Regions from separate parts of the Homo sapiens genome. Here region 1 is linked to region 2. Evidence: fine-mapped expression QTL. Tissue or cell type: prefrontal cortex. Region 2 holds a variant in brackets; the other region holds the start of a gene. All regions are shown on one strand. Distances are between the middles of the regions.

Region 1 (4,513 bases), 83 kb before region 2:
GTCAACTTAAACTAGGAGAGACGGGAAGTCTTCCTAGAGGAAGATGCTCTAGGCTGAACTCTGAATCATTAGCCAGACAAAAGTGCAGGAATGAGTTTAGGGAATTCCAGGTAGGGGAAACCACCTATGCTACAGTGCACAGGCTAGAGACCTTGGCAGGTTCTAGGAACTTGAAGAAACCGCTGGACAGGAGCATTTAGGATGATGGCAGGAGCACTCCGCTTTTTGCTAACTGGAAAATTATTTTGGTTGAGTCTCAGTCTACCCATATGCAAAATGGGTATGATAAGCCTTGTATTGCCAGATTGTTGGCACAACAGGAGCTCAATAAATAAAGGACTCTCAAGTGGCTTAGGTCTGCGGGCCAGTGAGGCGCGGTTCCCATTGGGCATGGAGTGGGGGGCGGCTGGAGCCTGCGCGCTCCTGGCTTGGTTTGCGGAATATCTTTATTAACGAGCACTTCAAGGTAAGCCGGCGATGGAAACCAGATGTGGGATCGCGCGGTCGGCGGCGGAGCAAGGACCAGAGATACTAAGGGGGTAGGGTGGGGGTAAGAATTAGCCCAGATGAGATTGGGAGCAGAAGCGCGACCCCCCAGGTATATTTTTTCTTTGGGAGACCTTAGATGCAGAAAGTTGACATCTGACCCACATTCCTTGGTTCACGGTGCTCAGGCCCTCTTTAATTTTACCTTGCACTTTTACCTCTCACCCTACTCCCAGACTCCCTAGAGGTACGTTCTCGCTTAACGATTTTCTCAGCGGTTTAAGGAAGGCTGCTCTCGCTGGTCTCCTTCAACTTGAACCATTCCACAGCCGGGGGCCAGTTTCCCCTCTGCATCTACGCTGTCCGCACGGCCTTCCAGGTCGGTGGAGGGACTAGCCTGAGCAGAGGTTCCAGGGCGCGACGGCTATTTCCCAGCTGTGTGACCTGGACCAGGTGGCCGCCCCTCTCTGAGCCTCCGTTAGCTCATCAGAAAATTGGGGGCGCCAATCTCTAGCACGGTTGTCATGAAGCGAAATCGAGGGGCTGCACGCGCAAAGTTTTTTCCCTTGCTGTGGCGGTGCCAGGGGCCTTGAGGCTCGCAGTGGTGGTGAAACCACAACCTATCAAAACCAAGCAGTTCGTTTTACAGTCGGGGGCAGTGAGGCCAGAAAGGGAAGAGACGGTCTCACCCCTCTCCCCGACCCCTGACCCCAAGGAGTGAACAGGTGACAGCGCGACTATCGGGCAAGGTCAGGGGGTCTCCAGAGTCCGCTCTCTGTACTTCGCCTGGCAGGAAATCCCCTCGCCTGGGCGCAGACGTGGGGCGTGAACGGTGCGGCCTCTAGACGGGAGCGCAGAGGGCAGCGCTCTAAAGCTTCTGAAGCCGGGCCCAGCCCAGGGCTTCTCCAGGGCTTGAGGGAGCACAGATTCCGCTACATCCCAGCCCAGCGCCCTTACAGCAGAGGGAAATAGTTAACAAGACGTGCAAGTGACCATGCACTGGACGACGAAGGCTTGTGTGTGTGTTAATCTCCCGTAGGAACGGGAATGGGGAGGAAGGTTGGAAACCTAGGAAAAGGTGCCAGCGGGAAGGCCCGCAGCGGCGCCCGCGAGCTCGCGCGCAGGAGTCCGTAGGACTCGCTTGCATCCGCAGGCCCGTGGTCCCCCTGGCTTCGAATGTCAAAACCTGTTAGGTTTATTTTGGGGGGCTTTTTTTTAACCTGTCATTAAAATTTGCATTTCCCTTTGCCCTAAGGCAAAGCTCCGACACCCCGCCAATTCTCAGCCTAGCCTCGGGAGCCCTGGGGATCCTGGCATCTCCCCAGCCCCGCCTAGAATCGGAAAAGCCCTCGGGCGCCTCCGGGTTGAATCCCCGCTAGCGAGTTAGTAGCATCTCCTTAAGAGTGGAGAGGAGGGGGCAGGGGCCAGTGGAAGGAGAGAGGAGGAGGGGACGAGAGAGGGGGAAAGGAAGAAGCAAGGCAGGGAAAAAAATTTACTTATTTTTTTTTTCCGCTGCAAAACCTTAAGAGGGTTTGGGAGATCTGGTCAACTTTCCGAAACATCTGAATCTTTTTACTGCCCTCCGTTCTTTCCCTCGGCTAGCTGTGGGGAGGGAGGAAAGAGAGAGAGGGAGAGAGAGAGGAAGGGGGGGGGAGGGAGGGGAAGAGAGAGAGAGGAGGGAGAGAGAGGAGAGAGACAGAGAAAGAAGAGGGGGAGAGAGAGAGAGGCCGGCGTGGAGGGGAGGAGGGAGAGCGAGCAGGCCGGGCAAGGAGTGCACAGCCACAGCCTCCTCGCCTCCCCAAACTCCCAGCCAAGGCGCGCGGTGGCGTCCTCGCGCCCTCGCTCGCGTCCCCGCCCGCCGCCTGCGCAAGCCAGGCATGAATGCTGAGACTTGCGTCTCTTACTGCGAGTCGCCGGCCGCTGCCATGGACGCCTACTACAGCCCGGTGTCGCAGAGTCGGGAGGGCTCGTCGCCTTTTAGGGCATTTCCCGGAGGCGACAAGTTCGGCACAACTTTCCTGTCGGCCGCCGCCAAAGCACAGGGATTCGGGGACGCCAAGAGCCGGGCCCGTTACGGCGCTGGGCAGCAGGACCTGGCGACACCCCTGGAGAGTGGAGCTGGGGCGCGGGGCTCCTTTAACAAGTTCCAGCCCCAGCCGTCGACCCCGCAGCCCCAGCCGCCGCCGCAGCCGCAGCCGCAGCAGCAGCAGCCGCAGCCCCAGCCGCCCGCGCAACCGCATCTTTACTTGCAGCGAGGCGCCTGCAAGACGCCCCCGGACGGCAGCCTCAAACTCCAGGAAGGCAGCAGCGGCCACAGCGCGGCCTTGCAGGTTCCCTGCTACGGTGAGTGCACGTGCGGGTCACCTGGTGCTGGGGACCACGGGGTGCTTGGCTTCCGCATCCCTTGAAACTGGTGGCTTGCGGGAGGTATGAGTTGGCGGGCTGGGGGCGGGGTGGTGACTCTGGTCGGTAAACGGGATCGATCGCTGCGAGGGAGCCAAGGGATCTGTTCTGTCTCCTTCTTGTCCGCCGGCCTAGGCACGGAGCGTTTCGGCTGTTAAACTCGACTTGGAGTTTGTTTTTCCCGGTCCCTTCGGCATTTCCCCAAACCGCTCGCTTTGCGCTGCCCGCTGGGCGGGATTTGAAGCGGATGCTTCTTACCGGCCCAGGGCGTGCGGCGGCAAGGAGTCTCCGCGCAGCGCTCTGGCGCTGGGCTGCGGGGCTGCGGGGCTGCGGGGCTGCGGGGCTGCGGGGCTGCGAGGCTGCGGGGCTGCGGGGCTGCGGGACAGCAGGACTGCAGAAGCCTCGCTCCTCGCCGGCTGGGAGGCTCCTCGGGCGGCGCCGCCGCAGGTGAGAGCGCCGCAGGTGCGGAGCCAGGCGGGAAGCCCGGAGCGTGGTTGGCCGAAAGCTCACGGGAAATCCAGGCGCACTGGCGCAACACAGTGCGGAGCCAGAGACCCTAGGGTCCCAGGGGACACTGTGGTCTGGCAAGACCCGAGTCCTGGGACCCTGAGCGCTACTGGCAGTGGGGATGCGGGCAGGCCAGTTCCCCTGGAGCTTCTCCCTCGGCGATTCTTGGAGGCGGCAGGCCTCTGAACAATGGTTTAGGACAGAGTAGGAAGGGAGACAGGAAGTCCCGAGTCCCAGGTGGCCCAGAGCTGTGGCAAGAGAGAAGGGTCTGGGTCCTGATTTGAGCCCACGGGGAACCCGGGGGAGCTGGCCTAAATGACCTCCAAGCTGCCTTGAACGCAGCCACAGGAGGCAGGCCTGGGCCCCCCAGAGCACAGCCACCATTGCCCGGGAGAGAGAGACACTCAAGGACGTCTCTAGCCAGAGCAGCTCAGTAGCCTAGGCCTTCTCTTCTTCCAGAGAATCGGGGTTCCTGAACCCCAAAGCGGAAGGGGAAGCAAAGACGCAGAAAGGGAAAAACCTTCTCTGGGCCAGGAGTCCTGAGCACATACCCGGAGGCCTTGGCCTTCAGGTCCGGCCCTGGTGGGAAGAGTTGGGGGCAGGGAATTTGCCCTGATCCAGGCTGATGGAGAGGCACTAGGCCTGGGGACAGAGGCTGGGACACGGCGGAGGCCTTGGTGGCTAGAATAACTTTGGGAAAACAGCCGATGGCAGATATTTTCTCGTATTCAGGTTCCTTCTTTCACAGGCGCAGAACTAGTTCATAGATGGCTGCTGACAAACATTCACAGTCATATGCTTGTCTACAATTGCACTCTACACACACACACGCAGAGAGCATCTTCTTTAGGAGCCGATGTGGTCATACCCCAAGAACACATGCCCATGTGGCCTCGAATGAGCCACATACTCCCAAACCCATAGGACAGAACTGAGAGAAGATTTAGAAAGATTCAGTGGCCCTTCCCCACTTCCTCCACCTTCCTCTTCACCTCCAGTTGGAATGAGATCAGGCATTCAGATCACAGACCCCCAAGGCTCCACACACAGACACCCACAGCTCCACATGCAGGCACACACAGTTCCACACACAGACACCCACTGCTCCACACACAGA
Region 2 (4,000 bases):
GCACTTCTGCTGAAGATGGAAGTTGCTTTTCTCCCCCTGTTTACTTTGAGTCAACACAGCTCTCTCCTCCATGCTAAGAAAAGTTCAAATCGCTTTCCCTAGGGATTCTTCTTTACAAGCCCCACTTTTGCAGCCATAATAATTACATTATTACTATTATTGGCTCAGTTGTCAAGTCCAATGCTGTTAAGATTTCGGTCCTCTTACTGTTGGCTGAAATCACTTATCAGACTCCTCTCAGGGACTTAATTTGGTGACAATGGGTCAGATACTAAACTATGCTGCTCTAAAAGGCATCAGAGGTGTCCTGAATTTCAGGTTGCTTTGGAGCCTTTATAGTGAGCGCTGTTCCTCATGCGGGGCCTCTCAGCCCTTGACTGATTCCAAGCAGCTGGATACAATCAAGATACCATCCTTGTCACTTAATCTATAACTCTGCAGCTGACTACAGGATCAAAACGGAGTGAAACAGAATGGGATGGGCCCTCTCTAATTGAGCCCTAGTGTAGTACGAAGTCGATTATGTATACAGTAAAGCATTTTCCCAGCCAGACGAGCAAGAGCTCAAACTCTACCCTGTCTCTTCATGGCTACCCACCCCTACTCTAATTCAACTTTTTTCCTTTTACCTTGGGGAAATGCTCTGGGTAAGCCTTTTGTCATTACTACCAAATGCCTTTATATATTGTGGTGTGGGCATTTGAAACTTCACAGAATATCCCTGGAGTTCCAGTAACAGTGCTTCCACAGTTATATTATTCACAAAGTCAATATTAAATTGTCTATACTGTTGAAATCCTCCATATATATAGTGCCCCCATCTATTTTAAATTGCACGCATCTTTGGGGACAGAAGCCTATCTCTGTTATAAAAAACTCTATGCCTAAGTTAGGGACTTAGCAATAATTTGGATAGTCCTTCCATTTGTGGCTATCCCACACCACTAGTCAAATGGGGATTGTAACAATGTAAGAACGTCCTCCAACTGTTTCTTTCCATTCTAATTTTTATATTTACATCATAGGGCTGTTGTAAGGATTGTGTGAAGTTGCATAGTAAGCATTCATAGGCTTCCATCAGACTTGAGATGTTTATTAACCCAACCTTTATGCTGGACACTCTTCCAGGTACTGGGGTTAAAGTGATGGACAAGGTATTCAAGGAGACTTCTCCCAAGGAGCTTACATTCTAGTGAAGGATCCTCAACACCTCTTACCTGTTGGTCCTCAACACCTCTTACCTGATTATGGAAATGTTCTGCTCTCTAGATTCTCAGCTATGCTTACTTGGCCATTTTCCAAGTTCTTCTTTCTTGAGCCTCCTGAGGTCTTTTGTCGTGTCCCATTACTATAGATAGGATCAAACAAATATCTTCTACCTTTGTGTAAAAGCCCACAGGGGGCAGCCTAGATTGAGTCTCACATCCTATAGAAAGTGGACCAGAGGCACATGGTTAAAGTAGGTCCAGGAAGCTCTGCCACTAGTGCATTGTGCAACTGACCTATTCAAGGTGTCTTGCTTCCATTTTGCCATCTATAAAATAAGGGATTGGATTAAGTGAATTCTGATGTCCTTTAACAGCTGAGATTTTTTATCTTCCTCCTCACTGACCTGTTCCCAGGGAACTAACCCACCAATTGTGATCTGTTTCAAGTTGTAAGTTTCTAAACAGCATGGGCTGCATTATCTAACTTTGTTTAAAATGCCATACACATAGAAGTACC[C/G]AATAAATGGTCCTAAAAAGAAGTTAATGCACTACCTTCTAAGCCAGCTTAGAGAGTGCATTTTAAACTCAGGGTGTGTGCTAACCGCAGTCAGATTCCGGAAACAGACTAGGGGGAGAAGGGGGAAGGTGTAACAACAGGTGGTGCCCATCTGGGACGTTCAGTTATGAAATCACGGGCCAGCACTAGGAGAAAAGCCACTCTGAAGTGGCTTCTACAGTCATCACACTGTCAAAGGCACAGTTCCACAGGGATATTGCTACTGGGTGAGCAATGTATCAGGACTCATGAACCAAGAGACAGACTAAGAAGTAGTGAGAGAAATGGAATTGGGGGTGCAGTCTATAGATCCAAGGCACATCAAATTTGGCAATGGCTTCATTTCCTTCCTTGCACACACTGCCTGAGTTTGGTCAATCCTTAACCATTAAAGTGCAACAGAGCTCTATGAACCAGCTCAAACCTTGCTGTCACATGGCTGGGTCAGCCAAGACAGAGCACAAGGAATCCAATATGCAAAAGCATCTTTGAATTAGTGGCCCTTCTTCCCTTCAGGCTTCGTCTTGCATGCTGCCCAGATGGGAAAGGGGCAGCTGGCTGGCTTCCAATTCCGAGCTGGTTTCCACAGAGGAGCCAGTTATAGGATTCACTCTCAGCCCTCTGGGAACAAAGCTCACCTTTTATTTTTGGAATTTCCTGAAATGAAGTGGAATGGAGGGACTGACTGCCTTCATTTTCAGCTTATGCTTTTAACTACAGTGGTAGTTGGCAGTTTTTGTCAAGGATGTGCTTTGAGAAAAGCCAAGGAGCCTTCATTCACTCCTGGGACACAATTCAATGCTGATACTAGCCATCTACAGCCAAGGAGCCCAGAAGTTGTCATGTAGAGTTCCCTAATGCTGACTAGTTTTGACAAACACATGGACAAACTGCATTATGGATTAAGATTTACCTGTGAGATCACTTTAGTCTGTCCGAGAGACCTTCCCAACCCCAGGCAGGAGCTTGCTTAAAATAAGCCACGCAGGAAAACCAATTACATGGGCAGGCTTCTGGGGTTTGGGCAGCATTCCCATTTGCTCCAGTCTGGCTAGAGGTTGGTACCTTGGTACTGGGGCACCTGATCTCCATTCTTTGCAAGTTATTTTTTAAGGCCAGGTGCCATGAAGATGGCAAAGAGACAGACTGGGGTTGGCCATAGTTGATAAAAAAATCTGTGCCATTAAATCTTTCAATAATTACCACTACTAGGAAGATACTGCCAAAGAAAGTGTCTTTAAACATGTGCCTCATCCTTGTATCTGTACCAGCTCACTGGACAGCATAACCATGAGCCTTCTGTGGATAATAAGAAGACTCACACTTTGGCAGTTGGAGCTGATGACCACTGTCCAAGCTATCTCAGAGATCTGCAACCTCAGAGATCATGTAGAAGGCAGAGGTGACTTGGTCCAGTTCCCTCATTGCACAGATGAGAAAACTGAGACCTGGAGAGACATGGTTCTCCCAAGGTTACAGTGCTGGGTCAAGTCTAAATTGGCCCGAACTCCCAGTCCAATCTTCTATTCATGAAGTCATCTGACTTCCTACTATGCTAATTCTAAAAAGCACCTTATTGTCCCCAAGCTCAGCCCCTCACCTGAAAACAAAGAAGTCAGATTATGATGTCAAAAACGACATTCAGGGTCAATGTTCTTCAGCTCTGTGGTGCCAGTGGCAGATATGAAGAGGGTCACAGGTGCCTGCTGAATGACCAGATTCAGAATAGAACCAGGTAGGGAGAGGAGGCAGGGAACACGAAAAAACCCTTTGCTCCCATCAGTCTTCATTTCTAAAAGCTACAGGCTCTTTGTGAATGTGGTTTCCATCTAGCAAAGAAAGCCATATGCTCACACCATTAAAAGAAAGAACTCCAGTCAGCTGTGCAGCAAACTAGTGAGACTCCACATCTGACATCTGAGGGCCTACTGGAACCTCGTAATCTGTGAGGCTCTGAGGCAGAGAAGGAAACACAAGCAAAAAGCAGCTAAATGAAAGATTAACCCCAAATACTATTTTTCATGAGGCAATGAATCTCTTGGGAGATAATAAGAAGGGAAGGAGAGATGAGAGTTTGAGGGGATGGGAGGAGGAGGAAGAGATGGGTCAGGATCAGGTCGTGGGTTTTCTAATTCTGTGCTCCCTAAGACCCAGTAAAGATGAAATCACTTTTATTTCCATAACCTCAGCTCCAGTGTGGGTCATACTATTTCTAAGTCTAATCTCAGGAGATTGC

Direction of the effects. Positions count from the first base shown, and alleles are read on the strand shown. Sizes are in standard deviations (SD) of each study's normalised expression.
With allele G in place of C in region 2, the expression in prefrontal cortex of the gene that starts at base 2,287 in region 1 is higher (small effect, 0.29 SD a copy in CommonMind).

Evidence for each region. PIP is the estimated chance that this variant, and not a neighbour inherited with it, causes the effect.
Region 1: ALX4 starts here. The variant in region 2 is the best candidate, but not a certain one, in a credible set for the expression of ALX4 in prefrontal cortex (CommonMind, PIP 0.68).

The regions. Positions count from the first base shown.
Region 1 is chr11:44,307,913-44,312,425 of GRCh38, reverse strand. It overlaps ALX4 (ALX homeobox 4), which reads left to right and starts at 2,287. Exons shown (of 4, transcript NM_021926.4): 1 at 2,287-2,829. The coding sequence starts at 2,364. RefSeq lists an enhancer at 1,381-2,309.
Region 2 is chr11:44,225,002-44,229,001 of GRCh38, reverse strand. The region is part of intron 10 of EXT2 (exostosin glycosyltransferase 2); the gene reads right to left. Among named protein-coding and RNA genes, the nearest start is that of ALX4, 83 kb to the left of the region's middle. The variant C/G (reference allele first, on the strand shown) is at 1,726.